Homo sapiens: one gene and its partners. The protein of the gene in region 3 purifies or fractionates together with the protein of the main gene of each other region. This does not show direct contact. Each region holds a gene or a part of one and is shown on either strand. Other genes may lie near its edges. The genes, in order: SLK, IQGAP2, C8orf76 and EPS8L2.

Region 1 (4,516 bases), on a different chromosome or scaffold from region 3:
CTGCTCTGCAGTGCCCTGTTATGTAGCATGTGTCTGTTTCTGCATTCTCCGTTCTCTTCATTGATCTATTTGTCTATTCCTATACCAGTATCCCACTGTCTTAATTAGGAAAGAATTAAAATAAATTTCTGCTGCTTCTTCAACATAGTTTAGTAGTATTGTTGGCCCTTAGGGCTTCTATGTACATTTTCCAGTTAGCCTGGTTGAGTGCCACAAAAAATCTGTGTTTTTTTGGAGAGATTTCATTGAATTTATAAATCAGTTTTGGAAAAATTAACCTCTCTTTGATATTGAGTCTTCCCACCTGTGCATGTTTTATCTCTGTTTAGGTCTTTTTTACTATCTTAATAATGAGTTACAGTTTTTTTCCCTAGAAGTGGGAACACAAACTACTTCAAGGATGTTTTAAATACTTTGTTTTTCCTGTTAGAATTTCCTCCTTGTTTTTGTTGTGTACAACCTTTAGTAGCCTTCTGAGAAAGGATCCATGGAAAACATATTTTTTAAGAACTTGCCTGTCTAAATATGTCTTTATTATAAGGTCACAACTTAATATATATAATTCTAGTTCAAAAGTAAGTTTTTAAAGAATTTTTAAGATTTAGAATTTGTTAGTTTTGAAGACTTTCTTCCATTCATTATCTTTTGGCTGCAAGAGTTGCTGTTGAATGTCTGATGCCATTTGGCTTCCTGGATCCTTTGCCATCTTTTTCTCTTAATAGCCTTTAGGATTTTCTTTTATCCTCTGTTCGTGGTGATGTACTTTGATATAGGTCTTTTCTTCTTCTTTCGTTTTGCTGTGCTCTTGGTTGGTCCTTTCAATCCAAAGACTTATGTCCTTCAGTTCTGTGACATTTTCTTGTATTATTTATTTGACAGCCTCCACCCACCACTTCCCCCAATAATGACTCTTGCCATGGTCTTAAGATTCTTCATGTCCCTAAATTCAGGGGACACTTACCATCTTACTTGACCTGTCATTACCATTTGAGATACTTGGCCATTCTTTCCTTTAAAAAGTTCATCTTGGCCGGGCGCGGTGGCTCACGCTTGTAATCCCAGCACTTTGGGAGGCCGAGGCGGGTGGATCACGAGGTCAGGAGATCGAGACCATCCTGGCTAACACGGTGAAACCCCGTCTCTACTAAAAATACAAAAAAAAAATTAGCCGGGCGTGATGGCGGGCGCCTGTAGTCCCAGCTACTCGGGAGGCTGAGGCAGGAGAATGGCGTGAACCCGGGAGGCGGAGCTTGCAGTGAGCCGAGATTGCGCCACTGCACTCCCGCCTGGGCCACAGAGCGAGACTCCGTCTCAAAAAAAAAAAAAAAAAAAAAAAAAAGTTCATCTTTTGGCCTTTTTTTTTTTTTGAGATGGAGTCTCGCTCTGTCGCCCAGGCTGGAGTGCAGTGGCGCGATCTCGGCTCACTGCAAGCTCTGCCTCCCGGGTTCACGCCATTCTCCTGCCTCAGCCTCCCGAGTAGGTGGGACTACAGGTGCCTGCTACCACGCCCGGCTAATTTTTTCTATTTTTTTTTTTTTTTTTTTTTTTTAGTAGAGACAGGGTTTCACCATGTTGGCCAGGATGGTCGCGATCTCTTGACCTCATGATCCACCCGCCTCGGCCTCCCAAAGTGCTGGGATTACAGGTGTGAGCCATCTCACCTGGCCCGTCTTTTGGCTTTTAAGTCACCATACTCTTGATTTTCCTTCCACCTCTGTGTCTGTTCGTCACACTCCTTTGCTGGTTCTTCCTCTTTCTGACTTTAAGGTGTGGGAATTCCACAGGGCTTGGGTATAGGCCACCTTCTCCTTTTCTTAAGAGAACCGGTCTTCTCCCATGGCTTCAATTACCATCTAAGTGCAATTTCTATCTTTACCCTAAGACCTCCCTTTTGAACTCCAGATCCACACATCCAACTGTCTATTAGAGATTTCTGCTTGGATGTCTCACAGATACCTTAAACTGCAAGTCCAAAACATGAACTAATTCAGCTCATGATGTCAGTCACAAATTTGCTCCTTCTGTCTTCCCACTCAGTAATTACCACTTCCATCTACCAGTTGCATAGGCCAGAGACCTAGAGGTCATTTTTAACACCTGTTGCTGCCTTCCCCGCCAAACCTAATTAAACACCAAGGCCTGTTAATTCTACCTACTAAATATTTCTCAAAAATACTTCTTTCTTTCTTCACTGTCATTTCACTAGTCAAAGCTGCTATCATCTCTTAGACTACTGCAGTCTTATTGGTATGTTTTTGGGCTTCATATAATCATTTACATGATTCTTTTAATCCTGTAATCATTTAATATATTCCTTTGTGTTGGGCTTCTTTTGCCAAACATTATATGAATGAGTTTCATCCATGTTGTTGCATGTAGTAGTAATTTGATCTTTTTCTTTGCTTTATGGTATTTTATGAAATATTATAGTTTATCCATTCTGTAGTATTTGGATTGTTTTCACTTTTTGTATGTTAAAAATATGATTCACGGCCCGGTGCAGGGGCTCACGCCTGTAATCCCAGCACTTTGGGATGCCAAGGTGGGAGGGTCACTTGAGCCCAGGAGTTCAAGACCAGCCTGGGCAACATAGGGAGACCCCATCTTTATTTGTTTTATTATTATTATTTTTTCTTGAGACAGAGTCTCACCTCTGTCATCCAGGCCGGAGTGCAGTGGCGCGATCAACTCCCCAGGCTCAGGTGATCCTCCCACCCCAGCCTCCCAAGTAGCTGGGACTGTAGGCACCTGCTACCATGCCCAGCTAATTTTTATATTTTTTGTAGAGACGGGATTTTGCCATGTTGCCCAGGCTGGTCTCAAATTCTTAGGCTCAAGTGATCTGCCCACCTCGGCCTCCCAAATTGCTAAGATTACAGGTGTGAGCCACCATGTCCAGCCTTAAATTTTTTAAATTAAAAACCAAAAAATACGATTCATGAATATTCTTGTGCCTTTTGGTGCACATGTGCCATTATTTCTGTTGGATATATACCGGGAAGGAATTTTCTAGGTCATAGGTTATACATATCTTCCAAAGCGGTTGTACCAATTTACACTCCCATCAGTAGGGTATGGGAGTTTTCCCAGTTGCTCTGTGTCTTCACTTACACTTGGTATTGTTATTAATATTATCTTTAATGTTTTTTGTTAGCCATTCTGTTGAGTATAAGTGGTTTTATTTACATTTTCCTGATGACTAATGAAGTTGAGTGCCTTTTTATGTGCTTATTCAATATTTGGGTATCTTTTTTTGGTGGAATTCCTGGTTATTTGCCCAATTAAAAAAAAAAAGCTCTATTTTGAGGTATAATTTATATACCACAAAATTCACCCATATAATTTTGTGAGTTTTAGTAAATCTGTATAGTTTTGCAGCCATTACTACAATCCAGCTTTGGAAGCTTTCTGTCACCCCCCGAAAGTTCTCATGTGCCTATTTTGCAGTCTGTCTCTATTCCCACACCAAGCTCAAGATAGCCCTTACTTGCTTTCGGAATGGCTCTGTAATTTTGCCTTTTCTAGAATTTTTTAATAAGTGGAAACATACAATATGTATTCTTAATATGTATGGCTTTTTGCACTTAGCACAGGGTTTCTCAGTGTTGGCACTACAGCCGTTTTGGACAGGATAATCCTTTTTTGTGGAGGGCTGTCCTATGCACTGTAGGATGCATCCCTGACCCTACCCCTTTGTGACAACCTAAAATACTTCCAGACATTGCCAAATGTCTCCTGGATGGCAAAATCAGCACCACTGGTTGAGTGTAATTTTTCAGGATTCATCTGTGTTATTCATTTGTCTATTAAAATTTTTGGTTATTTATATTTTCCTTAATGATTTGTAGGATATGAGGTCCTTTTTCCACAATGTAGATTGCTTTTCATTTATTTAATTCTTTTTCCTGATCCATAGAGGTATTTTTAAATTAGAAAATAAATTTATTAGAAAACAAAGGTTGAAAATAAACAGAATGAACAAACTCTATTTTTGCTTGCCCCAAAACCTCAATAAAAACTGTTATCTGGCCAGGTGCAGTGACTCATGCCTGTAATCCCAGCACTTTATAAGTTTGAGGCAGTAGGATTGCTTGAGCCCAGGAATTCAAGAACAGCCTGGGCAACATAGCGAGACCCCATGTCTACGGAAAGTAGTAAAAAAACTTAGCTGGGCATGATGGCACTCACCTGTGGTCACAGCTGCTGGAGAGGCTGAAGTGGGAGGATCCCTTGAACTTGGTGGAGGCTGCAGTGAGCTGTGATTGTGCCACTGCACTCCAGCCTTGGTGACAGAGCAAGACCTCGTCTCAAACAACAACAGCAAACAACTATTATCTCTTAAAATTTTAATATTTTTTCATATAAGTTCTGCATTTCCTTGTTAAATTTTTGCCTTGATAGTTTATCTTTCCAGCTACTATTTTGAATGGGATAGTTCTTCCATTATGTTTTGCAATTATTGTTTGGATATAAGAAAGCTATTAATTACTATTCTATAATATCTTAACCTTATTGA
Region 2 (4,516 bases), on a different chromosome or scaffold from region 3:
CCCTGTAGAGGTGTACAAGGCTTGGGTGAACCAACTAGAAACACAGACTGGAGAGGCCAGGTAATAGAATCAGGAAGGTGTTGGTCTTCTGTTATGTTTTATGATATTTTTACATGTGTATTTATTGATACTCTTAAACTTTGTTAGGCGAACTGTACAAAGTCAGTTATCAATCCAAAATGTTACCTCCCTTTAACATATCCATGCAAATTACATCTTGATACTAAATGGTATTTTCACATTTCAGAGCCAGGTGATCCCCAATGCCACAACTTCCATAATTCTCTCCCTTGTTTATTTTCTTTGTGTATTTCTAAACCTAGACCTAGAGATGGTGTAGACTCTCTCTTCACCTGATAATACGTACTTTTCTTTACAGTTACCAGGCAAGTAACTTTAAGGTGTAAGGTTTAACAATCCAGGTTGGATTGGCTTATTCTGGGTGGGTGGTTGTAGATTTAAGCAACCCTAGCTTCTTGTTTCCTGTAAAAGGATGTCTGTGAAATAAAGTGTACACAGAGAATTATGTAATTATGTGGGTGGTTGTTACAGTACTGTTTGTAATAATAAAAAGTCAGGAAAAGTCAAAATATTTAGCTTTGAGGGATTTGTTAAATAAATGTTTGTATAGCACATAATGGAATAAGTATTTGGAATCGTGGTATAGATATACATTTGTTGGCACAGAAAAAAATGTTCAGGGTATATATTCCAGTTGGAGTTAGGTGCAATAACCCATTTTTCTGGGAAAAGAATGCTCATTACATACGCCACACAGGATCTGTATAGAATGTCGATTACACAAATTGCATTACACCCATCAATATGCGAGGCCCACAGACATACATGCACAGAGGAGATTGGACAGTTATGCACTAAGGTATGAAAATTGGTTGTCCCAAACACCGCATATTCTCACTCATAGGTGGGAATTGAACACATGGACACAGGAAGGGGAACATCACACTCTGGGGACTGTTGTGGGATTGGGGGAGGGGGGAGGGATAGCTTTAGGAGATATACCTAATGCTAAATGACGAGTTAATGGGTGCAGTACACCAGCATGGCACATGTATACATATGTAACTAACCTGCACATTGTGCACATGTACCCTAAAACTTAAAGTATAATAATAATAAAATAAAAAATAATTAATTTAAAAAAAAGAAAAGAAAATTGGTTGTCCTCTCTGGTATTGTTTTAGATTATATGTGATTTTATTTTTCTGTAATGAACATTTGCTTTTTATAATTAAAAGAAATTTAGCTGAGTCTAAATTACCTGGGTCTGCCTCTTATCTTGCCAGAAGAGACCAGAGGGAAGGCCTCAAGTCCTTCCTGTTCCAAGTTGCAGAAGGTACCCTCTGTGAAGGTGGAGCCTCCCCTCATTTAGTAAACATTTTGTTACTGGAGTCAGTGGCAAAGTCCAATTCACTATACAAAGCTTGACTATAGAACCAACTTGGCAGCAAAATTAATGCTTGTACCTAAGCCTCCAGTTAATTTAAAGCCTTTGTGTTTTCAGCAAGTTGCCTTATGATGTGACCACAGAACAAGCTCTAACATACCCAGAAGTGAAAAATAAACTGGAGGCTTCCATTGAGAACCTGAGAAGGGTCACCGACAAAGTCCTGAATTCTATCATTTCTTCCCTTGATCTACTGCCGTAAGTTGTACTTGCAGCAAGTTTAACATTCTTTCCTGGAACGTTCTTGGAATACGATGTAAAATAAGCCCCTGTAGTGAAGACAGCAGTTTTCCCTTATATTGTGTTTACTATTTTAAAAGATTGCCTACATTTACCTTTTAAATTCCTGACTGTTCTCTAAAGAAGGGGCAATACTTCAGTAGCAAACACAGCTCAGTTATTATCATCAGTGGAAGTCCTGTGATTCCATTACCATCTCATCTTATGTTTAATTTTTAGAAAAACTACTCAGCTGAAGTTGACTGGAACAATTGCTGTGTGTTTTTTCCTCACTCCGCCTTTTTTCCATTATTTTCTTTTGTCATCTGTTTTATATGTAGTTATGGATTGAGGTATATAGCCAAAGTACTGAAGAATTCGATCCATGAGAAATTCCCCGATGCAACAGAAGATGAGCTATTAAAGGTAGATTTTCAAGGGTAATCTCACCATAGCTTCTCCTGGGGGTATGAATCAAAATTACCAACATATAACTTTGTAAGATTATTCCCCATGTATGATTATTTATAATAAGCTGCAGGTCTTCTGTTTCTAATGACTCTCAAGATAATTGATTAAGCTGAGGTTAATTTGGAGATCCTAGACATTATTGAAATTCTTTGCATTAGAGCATTTTGGGGGCAATGAGCATTTTTTCATCAAAAATAACTTTGCAAATTATGCTATTAATAATGTGTGATTATATTCATTGCCTTTATTAAACTCCTTGTTAGGATTTACATCAGAAAATGATCTGCTTTCTCTTGGGAAATGTAGGAGAATATATATCTTTAAAAAAAAAAAGAAAACTAAAACTCTTGAGTTTTCTCTCTTAAAAATGGTCATGCACTTCTGCGTCACTCCAGATTGTTGGAAACCTCCTGTACTATCGGTACATGAATCCAGCCATTGTAGCTCCAGATGGCTTTGATATCATCGACATGACAGCTGGAGGTCAGATAAATTCTGACCAAAGGAGAAACTTAGGATCAGTGGCCAAGGTTCTTCAGCACGCAGCCTCCAACAAGCTGTTTGAAGGAGAAAATGAGCATCTCTCATCTATGAACAATTATTTATCAGAGACGTATCAGGAATTCAGGTGAGAGGGGCCCTTAGTTTTGGAGAAACGTGCAAGAATGGTAGGCAAGAATAATATGTGCTCTGTGCCCAGAGCTAGAGTGGGCATGGAGGACAGGAACCCCAGGTGGTTACAAGCATTTCTTCTACCAGCCACTGGGGAAAGAGGAGAGAGGGAAGTGCAGGCAAGATTGCCTCTGTCTGGCGATCCTATCGCACCCCCACCACAGCACTCCTATTACACTGAGTCTTTTCTGTGTGTATTATTTCTGCTGCTGACAAAATGGCATACTTGTTCTTCCTTGTATGCTACAGGCTTCCAGTACCTAGAATTTAAAAATCAAAATAGCAGATTTCTGCTTCTTTCAACTTAAGAAGAGAGGAATCATTTTTAAAAAGTTTTCCGGTGAGGAAGAACTTGCTTATCTACGTCAGATACATTTGACCCTTGATTAACACAGGTTTGAACTGCTCGGGTCTATTTATATATGGATTTTTTCAACCAAAGACAGAGAGAAAATACAGTATTCATGGGATGCAGAACCCACATATACAAACAGATGACTTTTCACATACATGGGTTCCACAAGGCCAATTTCAAACTTGAGTATGCACAAATTTTGGTGTGTATGGGGGTCCTGGAACCAATCCCCCAAACATACCAAGGAACGACTGTAGTAGGAAATGGAATACTTGATTTTGAAAGGTTAGGAAAACCCAGATTTTATATTTGTTGATGATTGTGTATGTGAATATGTTCTGTTCTATTCTCAAGCCTTTCTTAATGACACATGTAAGAAGATTTAATTCTATTGATTTTGTGTTTCCAAATTATATCACTAATCATTAACAAGAAAGGCATGAGTCTGGTAGTCAGATTCACTCCTCCTGGAGCTCTGAGGAAACACTTTCCTCTTGTCATGTTTGTTCTCATGTCTGCCATTTAATCAACAGGCCATAGAAGTGTAACATCAGTTTGGCCTCTTTTAATCCTCACTTGGAAACTCATTTCTCATTCCTCGGTCTCCCTTGGAGTGAGTGACTTACTAGAAAACAAAGGTAGTTCATGATTATTCATTTCTATTTAGAATTTGTGGTCTTTTGTGAGAAAATTGCCCCAAATCCTCCTACTACAGAAAGTGTTGATTTTTCAAGCTAATTTTTCATTCTCCTCACTGACTAACAAAGTAATATCCAGGCTGGGCAACATAGGGAGACCTCATCTCTACAAAAAATTTAAAAAATTATCTGGGCATAGTGGTAAGCACCTGTAGTCCCAGCTACTCAGGAGGCTGAGATGGGAGGATCACTTGAGCCTTGGAGGTCAAGGCTGCAGTGAGCCGTGTTTGTGCCACTGTACTCCAGCCCAGGTGACAGGGTAAGACTCTGTCACACACACACACACACACACACACACACACACACACACACACACAAAGTAATATCCATTTCCCACATTTCTCATGAACTTTTAACTGCTGTTATTCCTATCAGTCATTTATGTTCCCACCTATTCTTTATTTAAAAAGAAACAAGACCAAAGAAGTGAGCCTCTTCTAAACTTGTCCTTTCTTCCACTCATATTTATCCTTTGTGTTTCTCAGAAATCTACAAAAAATTATAACCAAAGCAGCATAGGAAAGCCGACTGTTACATGGGAACATGCTCCCCACAACAGGGCTCTGCTGTTTAACCTCCCCCAGCCTCTGGCTGGGAAAGCAGAGGTCATTTCTGGTACATAAGACCCAGGTG
Region 3 (4,516 bases):
ATGTTGCTCAGGCTGGTCTCAAATTCGTGAGCTCAAACGATCCACCTGCCTCAGCCTCCCAAAATGCTGGGATTACAGGTATGTGCTACCACACCAGCTAACACAGGTTGTATTCTTAAACAAATGTAGTTTTGTTTCCAAGTATTACACACTAGAATGACAAACGTTCAACACAACCATAGGAAAATTTCAAAAATATATACCAAATGTCTAGCCTAGAACTTTTTGAAGCTTAAAATTAGAAAATAAAGCCTTTACTCTGAGCTGATTACCAAGCGTTGCTTAAGTGACTCTCAGCTTACCTGGTTCGTATAAAAGAGGCACATGCTTTCAGCTGAGTCTCTATCAACACTGTTTCTCTCTTTTCTGCCATACAGTTTTGGATATTTGTCAGAGCTTTCTCATTTTTCTGGCTATTACTGCTATTCGCTTCCACAGAAAATAAAGAGCTCTCAGGCAAGGTTTCAGGAAAACACAAAAGACAGTCTTTTCCTGAGTGTGGAAAGAAGGATTTGATAGTTTTGTCACTTGAGGTGAAACTGTGCTGTTTCTGAGATGACGCAAGTGCTGCTGAAAGAGCTGGCCCCAGATTCAGGTAAGCCTCTGCCAATTTGCCCCAGTTCCAAGGATTAAAAGGATGCAAAGAAATCAGTTTCTGCAGGCAGAAAATTGTTTTCTCCAAGTTCTGCAAACTTGAACAAATAGCAAGCTGGAGGTAGAGTACCGTGGTTAAATGGTCTGTGTTGGTTGCTTTATTTTCCTAAGGAGAAAAAAAAAAGGTTAAGAAGTTTAAACTTCAAAGCATTTTCCATATAAAATGAGAATGCCTAAAAAACCAAGTTGTATATGTTATAAATTAGAAGTATCTTTCAGTAGCTATACGAGTGACCTAAATATATTTCAATATATCTCATGTTTGAAACCGTAAACCCAGAGAGATATATGCTACCTAGAGAAAGAGTCACCAGCCATTCCCAAACATCCTAATGTCATAATAACTTAACAATTCCTAGATGGTGGCCTGCCAAATGTTCAGCATCAAAAACATAAATATCCATTTATTTCCAATTTTTATTATAATCTTTACTGTCTTCAGCCAGGTATCTGAAAGACCCAGCCACTTTTCTTAGATCCTGGCCTAATGATTCCATTGTAATATTCAAGGCTTTCTAAAAATCCAAATGGTAATTTCCTTGAGGATTTGAACAAACTCCACTTCCAAATTTTATTTGGCTTAGACATTTTAAACAGGATAGCCCTGAAGCTCTCCATGCTTCATGACGCATTCTAATTGAATCCAAATGCCTTCCCTGGTAACCATTACCAAGGTCAATTATAATTTTTGGCCAAAAGGGGTTGCTTAGTTTCCTTTTGATCAGAAAATCCTTTTCAAATCTCCTTAACCAGCGCCAACATCTCTTGCCTAACTTGCCATATGGCAAATGTCCTCTGGGTTAGTAAAAACAGGCCTGCTTTTTGTAAGTTGAAGTTTGCGGAGAGCAGATGGCAGACTCAAATTACCTTCAAGTTGATGTGAGGTCTAAGGAAAGCCTGGCCTGCAAGCGTCCAGATCAGGCTCCCTCACAGAACCACACTGAGCATGAAACATGAGCAAAACTACCTGGTGTACGGCCCCAGGAAACTGTACACCAGCAAGTGAAGGCCTGCGGGCAGCTCTAAATATTCCCACATTGAGTGAAAAGATAGGAGATAAAGCCCCATACGACTGATTTGCTGACACTGTACCTTCCCAAAGACAGAACACATCTCGTTTTATTGTTACTATTGTTCAGCATCTGTCCTTCCCAACAGACCATTTAGCTCCATAAGAGCTTTTGTTCAATGTAAATTCCTAGTACAGAGCACAGCTCCTCGGCCATCACAGATGTTAAATCACGTTTGAGTAATGACTTTTCTAAAGTCAAATCATGTCATTTATAAGGAAAACAACATGTATAGACTACATCTGTAACAAATGCTACCCTTCTTCTGTAACCAGTCTATAGGGCTTTATATTGTTCAAAAACTTTTTTTTTTTTTGAGACAGAGTTTCGCTCTCGTCGCCCAGGCTGGAGTGCAATGGTGCGATCTCAGCTCACCGCAACCTCTGCCTCCCTGGTTCAAGCAATCCTCCTGCCTCAGCCTCCGGAGTAGCTGGGATGACGGGTGCCTGCCACCACACCCAGCTAATTTTTGCATAAAGTAAAGACAGGGTTTTGCCATGTTGGCCAGGCTGGTCTCGAACTCCTGACCTCAAGTGATCCACCCCCTTCGGCCTCTGAAAGTGCTGGGCTTACAGGCATGAACCACTGTGCCCAGCCTCAAAAACATTTTGATATTGATAAAGCAAGTGTGTGTTAGGGTGGAGGCTGTTACTCACAAACTATGATCCTGATGACAGGGTTTTGTTTGTTTGAGATGGAGTCTCATTCTTTTGCCCAGGCTGGAGTGCAGTGGCGTGATCTCGACTCACTGCAATCTCCACCTCCCAGGTTCAAGCAGTCCTCCCACCTCAACCTCCCAAGTAGCTGGGACTACAGGTGCCCACCACCACACCAAGAGAGTTTTTAAAATTGTTATTAGGGATGCGGTTTCACCATGTTGGCCAGGCTGGTCTTGAACTCCTGACCTTCGCCCACCTCGGCCTCCCAAAGTGCTGGGAATACAGGCATGAGCCACTGCGCCCTGTCAATAGTAGGGTTTTGAGAGGTGGATTAGTAAACTCCTTCTGGAAATTAAATTCTATTTAGGCCGGGCGTGGTGGCTCACATCTGTAATCCCAGCACTTTGGGAGGCCAAGGCGGGCGGATCATGAGTTCAGGAGATCGAGACCATCCTGGCTAACATGGCGAAACCCCATCTCTACTAAAAATACAAAAAATTAGCTAGGTGTGGTGGCGGGCACCTGTAGTCCTAGCTACTCAGGAGGTTGAGGCAGGAGAATGGCATGAACCCGGGAGGCAGAGCTTGCAGTGAGCCAAGATCATGCCACTGCACTCCAGCCTGGGCAACAGAACGAGACTTCATCTCAAAAAAAAAAAAAAAATCTATTTAAATGAGTGAGTGATTTTTCCAGAATACTGCAACTCTTTCTGTAACAATAACATGATGATGACAGTTAACATTTACTGAGTGTTTACGCAGTGCCAGGCACTATTCTAAGTGTTTTCCTCATTTAATCCTCCTGACAGTGCTTTAAAATAGATTCAGTAATTTTCCTTATGTTACAGATAAGGCAACTGGGTCACAGAGAGGTTAGATAACTTGCCTGCCATAACGTGGCTGGTAAGCAGGAGAGCTACAGTCAGTTATACTAAAAGTCAAGGAATAAAAGGTACTTACGAAGAGCTGATATGGCCAGGCAAGGTGGCTCACCCCTGTAATCTCAGCACTTTGGGAAGCCGAGGTGGGCAGATCACTTGAGGTCAGGAGTTCAAGATCAGCCTGGCCAACATGGTGAAACCCTGTCTCTATTAAAAATACAAAAAAGGCTGGGCGCATTGGCTCATCCCTATAATCCTAGTACTTCGGGAGGCTGAGGCGGGTGGACTGCCTGAGCTCAGGAGTTCGAGACCAGACTGGACAACATGATGAAACCCCGTCTCTACTAAAATACAAAAAATTAGCCAGATGTGGTGGCGGGCACCTCTAATCCCAGCTACTTGGGTGGCTGAGACAGGTGAATCGCTTGAACCCAGGAGGCGGAGGTTGCAGTGAGCCAAGATCGCGCCACTGCACTCCAGCCTGGGCGACAGTGCGAGACTCCATCTAAAAAACAAAAAAACAAAAACAAAAACAAAAAAACAAAAAAAAATGTAGCCAGGTGTGGTGACACATGCCTATAATCCCAGCTACTTGGGTGGCTGAGACAGGTGAATTGCTTGAACCTGGGAGGAGGAGGCTGCAGTGAGCCAAGATCGCACCACTGCACTCCAGCCTGGGCAACAGAGCAAGACTCCATCTCAAAAAGAAAAAAAGAGCTGATGTATATGTGCGCTGGCTAAACCGACCAGACACTAGATGAGCACTGCATGTACACGATATATTGTTTGTCTCCTTAGCATCGAACCCAGAACCAGGAAAATAGTAGGACTGAAATGTTTGTTGAGTGCTGAGTGGATAAATGAAAAGGAGTCACTTACTACCAGAAAGCCATTTTCTTACCACAGTTACCACACAGGAATACCAACCACTATAAGAAAATGTTGTAATTATTTAAGAAATAAGTCCTACTATAAATTTTATCCAAAAATCATGAAAAGAGGTGAATGAATTTCAGCAGAAATTGTGAACAGAAAATGTTCGAATCTTGATGGCCACCCCGGGACTTGCTGTCTATTTTGTTCAATGTTACATACTGCGACAGGTCCCCCTACAGAATGTGAAAAGACAGTAACCACCGTCACAAAAAAACAGATATGGGCCAGAGCTAGTAACAAAAGGCGAGGGTCCTCAGGTAGAGAAGAAATTTTAAAAAACAAAACAAAACACAGCTTACCAGGAAATGAGAATGCCG
Region 4 (4,516 bases), on a different chromosome or scaffold from region 3:
TTTCTACCTTCCACTTACTGTGGGTTTTATTTGATTCACTTTATCTTTTTCTTTTGTTTTTTTTTTTTTTTTTTTTGAAATGGAGTCTTGCTCTGTCGCCCAGGCTGGAGTGCAGTGGCACGATCTTGATTCACTGCAAGCTCCGCCTCCTGGGTTCACGCCATTCTCCTGCCTCAGCCTCCCAAGTAGCTGGGACTACAGGTGCCCACCACCACGCCCAGCTAATTTTTTGTATTTTTAGTAGAGACGGGGTTTCACCGCGTTAGCCAGGATGGTCTCGATCTCATGACCTCACGATCCGCCTGCCTCGGCCTCCTAAAGTGCTGGGATTACAGGCATGAGCCACCGCGCCCGGCATTGATTCACTTTTCCTACCTGCTTAAGGTGAAACCTTAGATTATTTATCTTTTTTTTTTTTTTTTTTTTCTGAGATGGAGTCTCACTCTGTCACCCAGGCTGGAGTGCACTGGTGCAATCTCAGCTCACTGCAACCTCCGCCTCCTGGGTTCAAGCGATTCTCCTGCCTCAGCCTCCCAAGTAGCTGAGGTTACAGGCATGCACCACCATGCCTGGCTAATTTTTGTGTGGGGTTTTTTTTTTTTTTGAGACAGAGTCTCGCTCTGTCACCCAGGCTGGAGTGCAGTGGCACCATCTCAGCTCACAGCAAGCTCCGCCTCCCAGGTTCATGCCATTCTCCTGCTTCAGCCTCCTGAGTAGCTGGGACTACAGGCGCCCGCCACCCCGCCCGGCTAATTTTTTGTGTTTTTAGTAGAGATAGGGTTTCACCGTGTTAGCCAGGATGGTCTTGATCTCCTGACTTTGTGATCTGCCTGCCTCAGCCTCCCAAAGTGCTGGGATAATTTTTGTATTTTCAGTACAGACAAGAGTTTTGCCATGTTGGCCCAGCTGGTCTCAAACTCCTGATCTCAAGTGATCCACCCTCCTTGGCCTCCCAAAGTGCTGGGATTACAGGCGTGAGCCACCGTGCCTGGCCAGATTATTGATCTTAAGTCTTTCTTCTTTTCTAAGATATTCATGGAAAGCTCTACATTCTCCTTGCAGCACTGGTTTAGTTGTATTCCACAAATTGTGATATGTATGTTCAGAATGCTTTCTAGTTTTCTTGTGACTTCATCTTTGATGCATGGGTTATTTAGAAATATGTTGCTTTGTTTCTAAACATTTGGGGATTTTCTGGTTTTATTTTTATTATGGGTTTCTACCTTAATTCTGTTATGATCAAAAAACATATTCTGTACTGTTGCAGTCACTTGAGATTTACTGAGACTTGTTCTGTGGCCCAGCAGCCTGGTTTTTCTTGTTTGGTTGTATTGTGTGTTTCAGGTTTTACTCTGCCTCTCGCAGAGAGATGAGTGGCCTCATAGTCCCTTGCGTGTTTCTGCACACTTATTTTATTTATTTATTTATTTTTGAGACAGAGTCTCGCTCTGTTGCCCAGGCTGGAATGCAATGGCACGATCTCGGCTCACTGCAATCTCTACCTTCCGGGTTCAAGTGATTCTCTTAACTCAGCCTCCTGAGTAGCCGGGGTTACAGGCGCCCACCACCACGCCGGGCTAATTTTTGTATTTTTAGTAGAGACGGGGTATCACCGTGTTGGTCAGGCTGGTCTCGAACTCCTGACCTTGTGATCCACCTGCCTTGGCCTCCCAAAGTGCTGGGATTACAGGCATGAGCCACCGTGTCTGGCCCTGTGCCCACTGTAACCTGTTGGATCTGCCCACTTCTTTAACCTGTTGATGGACATGTAGGCTGGGTCCAGTCTTTATTATTACAAATAGTTCTGCATTGAGCAGCCTGGTACCGATGCCACATTTTGCACGTGTGCAGATTACCTGTAGTAGAATTGGGAGGGGATGGTGTGTGCAGCTTTAGAGGTGCCACTGGCCTCTCCCCAGAGAGGCTGGGCAGGTGCTGGATGAGGGCATCCTTTCTCCACATCCTAACCCATAAGTAAAACCCACAATGACTATTAGTATTGGGCAATAGAATAGGTAAAAAAACACAATTCCTGGCTGGGCGAGGTGGCTCATGCCTATAATCCCAGCACTTTGGGAGGCACAGGCAGGAGGATCGCTTCAGCCCAGGAGTTCAAGACCAGCCTGGGCAACATAGCAAGCCCTTGTCTCTAGAAAAAATAAATAGGCAGGGCACAGTGGCTCACGTCTGTAATCCCAGCACTTTGGGAGGCCGAGGCGGGCAGATCACAAGGTCAGGAGATGGAGACCATCCTGGCTAATATGGTGAAACCCCATCTCTACTAAAAATACAAAAAATTAGCCGGGCGTGGTGGCAGGCGCCTGTAGTCCCAGCTACTCGGGAGGCTGAGGCAGGAGAATGGCGTGAACCTGGGAGGCGGAGATTGCAGTGAGCCGAGATCGCGCCACTGCACTCCAGCCTGGGCAGCAGAGTGAGACTCCGTTTCAAAAAAAAGAAAAAAAAAATTGTTAACCAAAAACCAAACAGAGGCTGGGCATGGTGGCTCACGCCTGTAATCCCAGCACTTTGGGAGGCTGAGGCGGGCAGATAACCTGAAGTCAGTAGTTTGAGACCATTCTGGCCAACATGGAGAAACCTTGTCTCTACTAAAAATACAAAAATTAGTCGGGTGTGGTGGTGGGTGCCTATAATCCCACGTACTCGGGAAGCTGAAGCAGGAGTATCACTTGAACCCGGGAGGCGGAGCTTGCAGTGAGCCAAGATCACACCACTGCATTCCAGCCTGGGGGACAGAGCGAGACTGTCTCAAAAACAAAACAAAAACTAACAAACAAACAAAAAAACCCGCCAAACCGACAAAACACTAAAATAAAAGAGGCTCAGAGTTTCAAATTGTAATTCTTTCATTCAATGGTGTTGCATACAATTTTTTCTTTGAGTTTTTGCATGCTTTTTTAATTTTTTTTTTTTTTTTTAGTTTGAGACAGGGTCTCTCTCTGTTGCCCAGGCTCAGTGCAGTGGCACGAACATGGTTCACTGCAACTTTGACCTCCTGGGCTCAAGCATTCCTCCCACTTCAGCCTCCCAAGTAGCTGGGATGACAGGTGTGTACCACCACACCTGGCTAATTTTTTAATTTTTTTAATTTCTTTTTTTTTTTTTTGAGATGGAGTCTCACTCTGTCGCCCAGGCTGGAGTGCAGTGGCACGATCTTGATTCACTGCAAGCTCCGCCTCCTGGGTTCACGCCATTCTCCTGCCTCAGCCTCCCGAGTAGCTGGGACTATAGGCGCCTGCCACCACGCCTGGCTAATTTTTTGTATTTTTAGTAGAGACGGGGTTTCACCATATTAGCCAGGATGATCTCAATCTCCTGACCTTGTGATCCACCCGCCTCGGCCTCCCAAAGTGCTAGGATTACAGGCATGAGCCACTGCGCCCGATCTTTTTTTTTTTTTTTTGAGACAGAGTCTTCCTCTGTTGCCCAGCCTGGAGTGTAGTGGTGCAATCTTGGCTCACTGTAACCTCTGCCTCCTGGGTTCAAGTGATTCTCCCACCTCAGCCTCCCGAGTAGCTGGGATTACAGGCGCCCGCCACAATGCCTGGCTAATTTTTTGTATTTTTAGTAGAGACAGGGTTTCACCATGTTGGCTAGGCTGGTCTCGAACTCCTGACCTCAGGTGATCCACCCGCCTCGGCCTCCCGCAGTGCTGGGATGATAGATGTGAGCCACCGCGCCCGGCCACACAAACTTTTATGTTTTGCGTTTTGTGGTTGTCTTTGACTGTCCTGTAGTTCAAGTTAGTGTTTATCCAGCTGTGCCAGCATTGTGCACCGAACGGCCAACCCTTCGTGGGAGGGTTTTACTTAGTGAACACGGCAGCTTGGCTGGAGGAGGGGGCCTGAGCCAGGCCTGGAAAGAGGAGAGGTGAAGGGCACAGGGCAGGGGCCAGGCTGGCCGCAGATCCTCAGGGATGGACGCATCCCGCACACACTTGTCGAGGGTCCTCTGTGCACCAGGCTTTGCCCTGGACCTGGGGACACAGCTTAGCAAGTGGCAACCGGAACAGTGCCTTGGAGTAGCGAGCACGCTGGACGCACAGCACACCACGTGCAGCGCGACGTTGGGTCTGATTCAGGGAATTAGGGCAGGTCGGGATGGGGTGACGGCTGGCATTGTAGCCAGGTGGCCACAGAGGGGACGTCTGAGAAGGAAGAGAGCTGGGGAGGCTGGCAAAGCTGGTGCAGTGGGCGGGTACTGAGCCTGCACCAGGAGGTGGGCGGGTGAGGATGGTGGCGCGGGGCCGGGCAGCAGTTGGAATTCCTTTGAGGATAGTTTCAGGACACAAGCATGGCCCCTACAGATGCCTGCCAAGGCAGAATAGAGACTCCCCCCACCAAAGGCGGGGCCGGTCCCCGTTCTAGCCCCCTACCCAGGGTTGGCTGTGGCCCCTCAGCCCCTCAGGCTGTGGCCCCTGGGGGCTGGGCTTTCGACACAAGGAGGGCTCTGCCCAGCAGTGACCACCTGCCCACCCCCAGCACCTGGCCACATTCAT

Evidence for each region.
Region 1: the proteins of C8orf76 (region 3) and SLK purify together in Homo sapiens (affinity purification with mass spectrometry; one large-scale study listed by BioGRID and IntAct). This does not show direct contact.
Region 2: the proteins of C8orf76 (region 3) and IQGAP2 purify together in Homo sapiens (affinity purification with mass spectrometry; one large-scale study listed by BioGRID and IntAct). This does not show direct contact.
Region 4: the proteins of C8orf76 (region 3) and EPS8L2 purify together in Homo sapiens (affinity purification with mass spectrometry; one large-scale study listed by BioGRID and IntAct). This does not show direct contact.

What each region holds. Positions count from the first base shown.
Region 1 is NC_000010.11:103,973,302-103,977,817, forward strand, and holds part of SLK (STE20-like serine/threonine-protein kinase), read left to right. Parts: intron 1-4,516. UniProt on the Homo sapiens protein: Mediates apoptosis and actin stress fiber dissolution.
Region 2 is NC_000005.10:76,671,924-76,676,439, forward strand, and holds part of IQGAP2 (ras GTPase-activating-like protein IQGAP2), read left to right. Parts: coding exon 1-60; intron 61-1,525; coding exon 1,526-1,666; intron 1,667-2,028; coding exon 2,029-2,113; intron 2,114-2,553; coding exon 2,554-2,786; intron 2,787-4,516. UniProt on the Homo sapiens protein: Binds to activated CDC42 and RAC1 but does not seem to stimulate their GTPase activity. Associates with calmodulin.
Region 3 is NC_000008.11:123,230,998-123,235,513, forward strand, and holds part of C8orf76 (uncharacterized protein C8orf76), read right to left. Parts: intron 761-4,516; coding exon 303-760; intron 1-302. Other genes in the region: ZHX1-C8orf76 (zinc fingers and homeoboxes protein 1), read right to left, coding at 303-760.
Region 4 is NC_000011.10:715,563-720,078, forward strand, and holds part of EPS8L2 (epidermal growth factor receptor kinase substrate 8-like protein 2), read left to right. Parts: intron 1-4,499; coding exon 4,500-4,516. UniProt on the Homo sapiens protein: Stimulates guanine exchange activity of SOS1. May play a role in membrane ruffling and remodeling of the actin cytoskeleton. In the cochlea, is required for stereocilia maintenance in adult hair cells.